Linked DNA regions of Homo sapiens. The protein of the gene in region 2 interacts with the protein of the main gene of each other region in a pairwise test. Each region holds a gene or a part of one and is shown on either strand. Other genes may lie near its edges. The genes, in order: GAB1, PTK6 and EXOC5.

What was found.
Region 1: the proteins of PTK6 (region 2) and GAB1 interact in binary tests that used the Homo sapiens proteins (3 or more experiments, as listed by UniProt).
Region 3: the proteins of PTK6 (region 2) and EXOC5 interact in binary tests that used the Homo sapiens proteins (3 or more experiments, as listed by UniProt).

The regions. Positions count from the first base shown.
Region 1 is NC_000004.12:143,409,761-143,413,517, reverse strand, and holds part of GAB1 (GRB2-associated-binding protein 1), read right to left. Parts: intron 1-3,757. UniProt on the Homo sapiens protein: Adapter protein that plays a role in intracellular signaling cascades triggered by activated receptor-type kinases. Plays a role in FGFR1 signaling. Probably involved in signaling by the epidermal growth factor receptor (EGFR) and the insulin receptor (INSR).
Region 2 is NC_000020.11:63,530,653-63,534,409, forward strand, and holds part of PTK6 (protein-tyrosine kinase 6), read right to left. Parts: intron 3,664-3,757; coding exon 3,500-3,663; intron 3,053-3,499; coding exon 2,899-3,052; intron 2,036-2,898; coding exon 1,874-2,035; intron 276-1,873; coding exon 94-275; intron 1-93. UniProt on the Homo sapiens protein: Non-receptor tyrosine-protein kinase implicated in the regulation of a variety of signaling pathways that control the differentiation and maintenance of normal epithelia, as well as tumor growth.
Region 3 is NC_000014.9:57,199,983-57,203,038, forward strand, and holds the end of EXOC5 (exocyst complex component 5), read right to left. Parts: 3' UTR 525-3,056; downstream 1-524. UniProt on the Homo sapiens protein: Component of the exocyst complex involved in the docking of exocytic vesicles with fusion sites on the plasma membrane.

The DNA.
Region 1 (3,757 bases), on a different chromosome or scaffold from region 2:
AGGTCTTTAATCATCAACATTTTAAATTAACTTCTCATTCTTCACGCAGCTCAAAGGAATAAGTATATAATTTGTGTCCAGGGAAGGCAGGGTAGAGTCCTATAGATGTTTTAGATAATATTGAAAAGTCATAAAGTGTTGGATTCACATGATTTTAGCACTGTTTTCTGGACTATAAAAATCCATTCATTGAATATGCATCTACTTACTGCAAAATAAATAAATATCATCTCTTAGTAAAATTATCCCTCTATGGATACTTCCCTCTCAAGCAGTAAGCTTTAAAAAGTAATGCAGAAGTAAAGCAAAAGAATATAAAATATGATGTTATTTATGCAGGGCCCTCAAGAAATCATATCATTCAGTAAGTGATTTCTCCAGATAGTGAAGCTTCATCTTTAAATACAGAAATGACTTTTTAAAACTTTATTGTCTTGCACGCAAATCTTTCTAAAATGCTTTACTACATACTTCACCAAACATAATCCATTCCCCAATGATTCAGACTAAGTATTGTAAGCATCCATTTCTATACTGCACTTCAGGAGACTCTCAGAGGCTGTTGCACTGTATAGAGTGTCATTTGCCCCTATACTATTAATAAATAGTACCATATTGCTATGCTTGTATAGTTCATCTTTTAAATACAGTTTCCTGTCTTTTTTCTCTCAATTTCCATCAACTGTCACTTTTCCCCCTCCAATAATAGGGTTTATAGGAGGCTAAACTCTTACCTGCCTCAGGGACTTTGCACATGTTTTCCCCTAAATACATTATATTCTTTCCCTCACTTTTTGCCTGGCCAACTCCAACCTTCAGGGCTTCTCTTCCCTGACCACCCTCAATGCAACCAACTCCAGTGTAAACTAATAGCATAGTTTTAGAGATCCTATTACTTACCTACGTAGTGATTTGTGTAATTTTGCAATTCAATTTTTCTTTGTATTTATTTGTGTAGTACGTAACTCCCCAAACAGACTGAAAAGTTCAAGAAGATAGTGACCACGCCTGCTTTATTTGCCATAGCACAGTGCCTAGTACATAGCATATCTGTACAATAAATAAACAGAATTCTCCTGAGAGAGTAGACTTGTAAAATTTTTGAGATTAGATTTGATACATGGGCCACAATGAAGAGAGTGCTTTCAAAGCATCTTCCACTTGAGAAAAAGAGCTCCAATACTGAACATATACATAATAAAATAAACATAACTAAGACAACTTTACCAAAACACATGCACAAAACATCTTGGGAAAATGGCAAAAACAGAAAAGCACAGAACATGTCCTTTTGCTACAGCTTATGTGTCACTCTTTGTTTTCCGGCTAACTGTGGCTCCCCCCCATCCATTCCTTGGCTTCCCTGTTGAAATCACATTGTTACAATTCAAAAAGCCCTTAGGAACTAAAATAAATAATCAAGAAATGAGTAGCAATGAATTGAGGTGCATTAGATATATTGGGCTAGTGATTACAGAGGCTGAGTAGACATTATACAAGACGTGAACCCTTACGGCAGGAAATTACAGCATTAAAACACAGAATTTAGCCAAGCAGCACCTGCCATTTATTTATTTATTTTTAACATGGTCCAAATGTGAATGTTTGTCTCAGTCACAAAATGAGTCACCCTCATTGAATCTGGCACAGATTAAGCTGGAAAACAAAAGCAATTACATAAACTACACACTTTAATAAGGCAGATACAAAGGTTCTCTGGATTATGGTACAAAGCACAATTTAGCCACAGAATAAAGCTTGATGCTCGACAAGAGAACTGACATCAGCACCCTTGCTAATCACAGCACAAAAGCGTCTCTATGTTTTGTCAGAGCACAAAACGGGCCCACATAAATCAGTCTTTGTTATCTGAAAATATCTGAGATTCTTAAAGTTTGTCCTATTTTTATCCTTGCTGCCTTGGTAGCTCCAGAGAAAGCCGTACACTGCCTTGCCAATCCTGCAGAGCAGGAGCAGACAAAAAGGACAGGCTTTCTAGAAACCTTCAAAACCAAATACTCAAAGTAATTTTAAAAGAAATTCACACAAAAAATCATTTTAACGACTAGACTTCCATTACGAGCAGGTAATGAAGAAGCTGAAATTTGCAAGATGTCTGCATAGTTGAGAAGGACTATGTAAAAACTTATTTTGTAGCCATTTCTTATATGCAATAGTCACTCCAATTTTGAGTTGAACAAATAATTTGTTAACAAGAAGTCAACAGTTAAGTCTGGATTTTGGGGTAACTTAAAAGTACCAAATTCTGAAGCCAATTCCCTATGCTCAGTGACTGCCCCCTGTGCCTACAGGATAAAACCCAAACTCTGGCAGGGTACACAGGACCCTCCAATCAACTCCCGCCCCATCTCCACCCCTAAATCTCTCCAGCGTCACTTCTTGCCCCTCTGCCTTCCAACCACATTGGAAATACTTGTAGTTTCCCAAACACTCTGCTCTGTCCTGCCTCTCACCCCTTGGCACAAAATCTACCCCCTAGATTTAGCTCAGCCCTCTTCGGGGCACCATCCGAGTTGGCTCTGAGCTCTCCATTTCCACCTTTTTCCTAAATCATTTGACATCTGTGCATTTGAATGTACTGAGGGCTGGAGCCATTTTAACCTTTCTTCTTTCCTTTCCCATTGCCTAGCGCCAAGGAGGTGCTCAGTCAATGTCTGCTAAATACGCAATACAAAATGTTTGAGGCAAGGATTAAAAATACAGAAGTTCTCATACTATTTATGCATTGCAGGGATAGTGATATAACTGCGATCTGCCCAGCCCATTCAAGAATTGGTCAGGCAAGCATAGAGGTGTGTAAACAAATTAATTTGTTTTTAAAACTCTACAGACATAAGAGAGATGTTTTTAAACATCATTTTAAAAGAACTATTCTTTTAAACATTTCCTGTATTTAGCAAATTGGATATGCTCACCTGTAGAACTGTCACACTGAAGCTAGGTCTTAAGGCAGGCTTATCACACACCCTAGAGTATGGGTATGTACATACTGGCAAGAAAGTACAGATGGGAGTCCCACTATTTGGTGGGAAGGAAACATTTTTTAACCTGGATTAACCCCAAGCCATTAATGGCTGTAATATTACTAACAAATTCACAAATTTTGCCTATATGGCTGTAACGTTACTAACAAATTCACAAATTTTGCCTAATTAACCTAACTAGCAAATGGCTTCAGCTTTAAAGAAAAACATTGTAACTGCTGTACACCCTGTTTTGTGAGTTCTCTGTGGTATAAATGACAGCTCACATGCCTGGTGTGATGCTTGCCAAAATTCCCTCATCTTTTCCCTGTACCTTTACTGGAAGAGCTAATTATTGAGGAAGTGGCCAATATATGGGCAGGCAAGAGAGAAGATCAGAGAAGAGGTCGGGGGTAGTCCATGGGTTCTCTGCCCTGAATGCACATTAGAAATATCCGGAGAGCTTTGCTTAAAAAAAAAAAAAGCTTGGGGTTTCACCTTAAGCCAACTAAATTGTAGTGTATGGGGGTGGGGTGAAGATTGGAATAGGCAGGTTTAAACACTCAACAGATGATTCTAATGTGCCACCATGATTAAGAACCATAGATCCAATCAATAGGATTATATTGCTCTTTAAAGTAAAATTTCAAAAACAAAACAAAACAAAACAAACACAGGTCCTTTCAAGCTTACGTCTCATTCTTCATCTTCTTATATTAATATCTTCTGCTCATGCCAATGCTGTCTCTATCTTCCTATTTTTGTTCACAATA
Region 2 (3,757 bases):
CCCAGCCGAGTCCCCAGCTCCACACACAGGAAGCCCCCAGCCCTCCGGCCACGCCCCGGCCACGACCCCAGCCACGCCCTCTGAGGGCCCTACCTTGATAAGCCTGGCTAACCCGAAGTCCCCAACTTTGCAGAGGGTGTTTTCCCCGACGAGGATGTTCCTGGCGGCCAGGTCCCGGTGGATGTAATTCTGCGACTCCAGGTAACACATGCCCTCAGCCACCTGCCAGGCGATGTCCAGCAGCTCCGAAACGGGCAGGACTTTCTCATCAGAGTCTGCAGAGGGGAGTGGAGCAGAGCCTGGGGTCAGCTGAGCCAGCTGAGGTGGGGAAGGGTTGGGGAGGCTGGGCCATGTCTCATCTGCCTCCAAGCTCTGCGGGCTCAGAGGAGGGGCCGGGGCAAAGGGCAGCTGGCCTGATTGAAAATTGGAACTGCAGGCCAGCTACCGCCCTTCTGGAAGGCAACTGTTTATCACGAACCAAGGAGCAAGCTGGGCGTGGTGGCTCACGCCTGTAATCCCAGCACTTTGAGAGGCTGAGGCGGATGGATCACGAGGTCAGGAGATCGAGACCATCCTGGCTAACACGGTGAAACCCCATCTCTACTAAAAATACAAAAAATTAGCCGGGCGTGGTGGCGGGCGCCTGTAGTCCCAGCTACTCGGGAGGCTGAGGCAGGAGAATGGCGTGAACCCGGGAGGCGGAGCTTGCAGTGAGCCGAGATCACGCCACTGCACTCCAGCCTGGGCGACAGAGCCAGACTCCGTCTCAAAAAAAAAAAAAAAAAATATATATATATATATATATATATATAATTAGCTGGGCGTGGTGACAGGTGCCTGTAATCTCAGCTACTCAGGTGGCTGAGGCAGGAGAATCATTTGAACCCAGGAGGTGGAGGTTACAGTGAGCCGAGACTGCGCCATTGCACTCCAGCCTGGGCGACAGAGTGAGACTCCGTCTCAAAAAAAAAAAAAAGAACCAAGGAGCAGTTCCTAGTGGTCTAGCCCAGCGATTTCCCTTCTGGAAGTTTGTGATGACGCGGGAGGAGCTGGACGCAGAAGGACCAGCGAAGAGGCTCATGACTGCGTGATGTAGGCAGTGGGAACTCGAACAGGAGAATGGCTGTCAGCGGCTTGCGGCCTGGTGGTGCCTGTTTTACCCCACATTCCCTCCCGGAGGACCCTGAAGGGCGTGGGGACTGTCTGAGATGATCAAGCCCTTTGTGTGAGGGCGAGGGGTACGGAGCCTTTCGCTCAGAGCGCAAACGTGCGTGGTGCCTCAGTGTAGCTCTCCTCAGACACACACGGCATTTTTCCTATACCACAACGTTCCCTCCCATTCTAACATCGGAATCCAAACTGCGCCTTCACGCACGGGCATCTCCATTCCCTGGCAGCGATTGTCTTTGGTTTTGGTGAGAAAGGAAATAATGGAACTTAGAGAGGATGAAGTCTTTGAGCCAATGTGATCTGTGTGTGTCTGTGTGTGTGTCTGGATCAGTGTGTGTCTGTGTGTGTGTGTGTCTGTGTGTGTCCGTGTGATCTGTGTGTGTGTCTGTGTGTGTCCGTGTGATCTGTTTTGTGTGTCTCTGTGTGTGTGTCTGTGTCTATGTGTATGTCTGTGTGTGTCATGTGATGTGTCTTGTGTGTGTGTCTGTGTGTGCATGTGTATGTCTGTGTGCATGTGTGTGTGCATGTGTGTCTGTGCGTGTGTGTCTCTGTGTGTCTGTGTCTGTGTCTGTGTGTGCATGTGTGTGTCTGTGTGTCTGTGTGTCTACGTGTGTGTGTGTGTAGACGTGGGGGGGGGGTGTGCACTTTATTTCCTCACGTGCCCCCGCTGCCTCCAGCAAGAGCCCCGGCCCATGCCACTCACCGCGGAGCAGCTCCAGCAGGCTGCCCTTGGCCATGAGCTCCGTGATGATGTACACGGGGTCCCCCACGGACACCACGGCGTACAGCGCCAGGATGTGTTTGTGCCGCAGCTTCTTCATGGCCTGGATCTCCGACTGCAGCATCTGCTGGTGCAGGAGGTTGTCTGCGGGGACGGGTGGCCTCGGTGGATGCAGCCCCTGACCCCCCAGGCCCCAAGGAAGAGGCCAAGGCCCTGCCCCCACACACAGCAGCCATCACACCCAGCAGCTGTGCAGGACACACAGACCTCCTGCCCCCGACAGGGCACCTGGCTCCCGAGGCCACGAAATGGCAGATGCAGCCGGCCCCACAGGGCCCCAGCCTGGCGTACCCACGGGGCTGTGGTGGCCACCCGATTTCTTCCTGTGCCCGGCCCAGACCTCTGACATAGAGGCCAGACCTCTGCTGGGGCCCAGACGGGTTCCAGGGAAGTTTTACCCATTTCCAGTGATCTATTTTAATGGCTTTCCATTACGTCAAGGATTTTAAATTTTCTTTCTTTCTTTCTTTTTTTTTTTTCCCAAGACGGGGTCTTGCTCTGTCGCCCAGGCTGGAGTGCAATGGCGCGATCTCAGCTCACTGCAATCTCCGCCTCCTGGGTTGAAGCGATTCTCCTGCCTCAGCCTCCCGAGTAGCTGGGACTACAGGCACATGCCTCCACACTCGGCTAATTTTTGTATTTTTAGTAGAGACGTGGTTTCCCCATGTTGGCCAGGCTGGTCTCAAACTCCTGACCTCGTGATCCGCCCACCTTGGCTTCCCAAAGTGTGGGGATTACAGATGTGAGCCACCGTGCCCGGCCTAAAATTTTCTTTTATAATAAATGTATTTAGGTAAAAACATAGGTGCAATTGAAAGGGAACCACTCTCGCATGGACGCTGTGGGTGCTGCTTGGGGCTCGAGGCCAGAGGTCCCTGTTGGCGGGGTGGGAGGGTGGCCCAGGGCAGGCACGGGGCCACACAGAGCCCTGATCGGGGCCCACTCACCTCGAGAAATCACCTTAATGGCCACCTGGACCCGGTCTTTCCAGAGCCCCTCGAAGACCTCCCCAAAGTAGCCGGACCCCAGCTTCCTGCAGAGCGTGAACTCCTCCCTCGGCCTCTCCCAGTCATCCCAATGGGGCAGGGGCTCAGGCTCGTGCTGGAGGAAGAGTCGGGGACACAGGGCAGGGGCTCATCCTTCAGGAAGTGCCAGTCTGAAGCCAGCACAGGGAGCCTGGATTTAGCCTCAGATTTAGGGCCACGATCAGCCTGGGTTGGGGGTTTCTGAGTGTCTGACACAAGGGTGGACTCTCCTGGGGGCTGCCCCCAGCCCAGCATGAAACACCCAGACAGACCGGAGCCAGGACCCTGCAGAGTGCCGCTGGCCTCTCCGAGAGTGGCCAGGCCCGGGGATGGTCTCCTGGCCCCACCCCCAACTCAGGCAAACACCTGTGCTCTGCAGAACCATGGGCTTCCCTCCAGTGGGCCCCAGGTCAGTGAGTCAGGACCCCTCCCATGCTGCCCGGCCAACCTCTCCCAGTAGGAAATGCCAGCCTGTGACCCCCCAGCCTGACCCCGCGTGACCAAGTCAGGGCGGAGCGGCTACCTTCCGGCAGGGCGCGGCCAGCCGCAGGCCGTGGGACAGGCTCTGGGCCCTGTGGTAGTTCACAAGCTCGGGCAGGCTGAGGAAGGACACCGCCTCGTTCAGGTGCAGCCGGCCCCCGGCACGCCGCCAGATCTTGTAGTGCCGCACAGCCTGCGTGTCCCGCACTGGGAGGGAGAGCGTGAGCTGTGTGGCCACCCCAACTCCGACGCCTCCCTGCGTCCCCAGCCCTGCTGGCCACACCTGCGCAGAGTTTCTGGG
Region 3 (3,056 bases), on a different chromosome or scaffold from region 2:
GCGACCACGCCCGGCCTAAAGGCTCTAAATAAGCTAACCCCAATCCAAATATTCGTTTTAACTTGCCCTTTTTGATGGACCCCACACATTGAGCTCTACTCACACAGCAGTTTTTCCATTCAGTGATATACCAGTGACTCATGCCTCCACACCCTGCAAGTATAAGTTACTTCTGCCTAGAATTCCCCTTCTCCTCCACCACTGATGAAATGCTACTTGCCTTTTTAAAGCTCAGCTGAAATGTGACCTCTTTTATGAAATCTTCTTAGAGGTAACAGAGCAAAGTGGTTAAAACATAGGCTATAGAAGCCTAAGGATGTAAGTTTGAATTCTATTACTTTTTAGATATATAATTTTGGTGAAGTTATTTAACTTCTTTGTGCCTCCATTTGACTCCTATTTCACATTAAGTTTATTGTAACATCTATTATAATAGATCCAGCCCAGAGACTCCTTTCTCACATGAAGTCTATCCTTCTTAGCATATATATTTTTAATGGCCTACAAAAACAACAATTGTATGATCATTTTTCCTTTGAACTTTATTAGTAAAAATATCCTATTGGTATTCAGTGCTTAATGGTCAGGTTTCCATTCATACAGTTTCTCTGATGCACTCTTATTAAATAGCAATTACAGTAGCAAGGAGATTGTATAATAGAAAAACATACGGTATGCATTTCAAATTTAATTCTTTCAAAATGTAAGTTCTGTGTCTTGGGCATAACACTTTACCCCCTCCTCAATTCAGCTTTACTAATTTGCTCACTACATTAAAAAAAAAAAAAAAAAACTTCCACCAAAAATATAGTTGTTTCTGCGTGATAAAATTGTAATTTTTAAATTTAATATTTTAAAATTTTTACAGGATTTCTGCAATGACCATTCTTATTCCCTCAATTTGGTCCTAAAGCCAAAACTTCAAGAGCTATGTGAGATGAGGATGGTCTCCTCCAGAGAGAGGGGAAGCCCAGTATGGAGTATGGAAGCTCAAGTGAGGTGAGGAAGATGTTGCAGAGGGGCGCATGGGTGTGGGTGTATATTTAAAATATGCGTGAGTGTGTGTGTGTGTATGCACACATAAAGCCCCCTAGCATTATCTATTGAGAAAGAGTAGGGTGAGACATCTCAATAATAATAAGCACATCTCATGCACAAATCTTGATTTCTAACTGCCAATTTCACTAAAAGGTGGAGGAATGGCTGATTCCAGAGCTGGGGCAAGGCAAGTACAAGATGACCTTGGAAAATCCTGTTGTGCCCAGAATAAATTGCTGTAAAAATGATGGGAACATGCCAAAACGACACAGGAGACAACCTGAAGAGGCTACTTCTGACCAAATTTGGGATAATTTGAGATTTGGTAAAATGACAGATTATAATTAGTTGAACAGAAAACTATGAATACATAGTGATATCAAGAGAATTCTGATTAGTATATATATATACACACACACACGTGTGTATATATACACACGCGTGTATATGTACACACACGTGTATAAACACACGTGTATATACACACACATATGTATATATATACACACACACCACACATATACATATATTTTTATATATATTAATATTATATATATATATATATATATATATATAAAGGATGGCTGGTTAAGGTGGCTCACACCTGTAATCCCAGGACTTTGGGAGGTTGAGGTGGGCAGATCACTTAAGGCTAGGAGTTTGACACCAGCCTGACCAACACGGCAAAACCCCATTTCTACTACAAATAGAAAAATTGGCCAGGCATGGTGGCATGTGCCTGTAGTCCTAGCTACTTGGGAGGCTGAGGTGGGAGAATCGCTTGAACCCAGGAGGTAGAGGTTGCAGTGAGCTGAGATCACGCCACCGCACTCCAGCTTGGGCAACAGAGCGAGACTCTGTCTGCAAATAAATAAATAAGGGGGACCTATATATGTCTGTATCTATTAATATATATCTACCTCCAAAATATTTACAAAGGGAAAAGTAATAGTTTTAAAGTGGAGAAGCCTGGTAAATAGTACCTTAAGAAAGTGATAAAAATGAACATCATCAGAAATGGGGCAAATTGAAATTGTGTACTATGTGATAGGATGCAACAATAACACAGAGTTGCATCCGTGGTATGTCTGCCAAAAAGCACAAACAGAATCTAATTACGTGGAAACAGAAATCCAAATGTAGGGGTGTTTTACAAAGTAACTACCCTATAATCTATAAAAATGTCCAGAGTCAAAAAAGTCAAGGAAAGACTGTGGAACTGTGTCAGAATGAATGAGACTAGAGCCACTACAACCTAAAGCAATACATGATTTTGAACTGAGATCCTTAAAAGGAATTAGGACAGCTAGTAAAATGATTGGTGTCTGAGGATTAGATAGTAGTAATATGTCAATGTTAACTTCCCAATTTTCATGTATTGTAGTTATACTGAAGCATTCTTTCTTCTTGGAAATACAAAAGTATTGGAGGGTGGTGCAGCATCATGACAGCGACTTATTCTCAAAAGGGAAAAATTTTATTTGTACAGTATTTACAACCCTTCTGTTAAGTCTGATTGTTTCAAAAATTTTTCTTTAAAAAGCAGAATGTAGAACACTAATCAGTAGATTCTTATTAGAGTTGATAAAGGAATTCAATGTGATATATAACTAAGAAAACATAATGTTAATCATGGTAAACTTTGTTCAATTCCTGTGTCCACTGTGCACATGTTCTTCAAAACTGTTTTGGTTTTGTTATTAATTTCCTTTGAAATTTTTCTCATGCAAGACTTTCAGAATCTTGTTTACACACATGCACACACACACATAATTGGGATAGCAAAATGTTCATAGATGCTGTAAAGTTGTGTGAATTCTATTTTTAAAATAAAAAAATGTACATATTACTATAAAAATAACTTCTCCCCCTTGTGGCAAAAATTGAAAATACATTCTACTGGAGAACTTAAGAGAGGCACTTAGGTATTATTCCTTATAAAATATTTTCACATAACTTCATGTGAATCCCCCATGTTATCCTCTAAATGGTACACAGTATTCACAAACAATATGCTT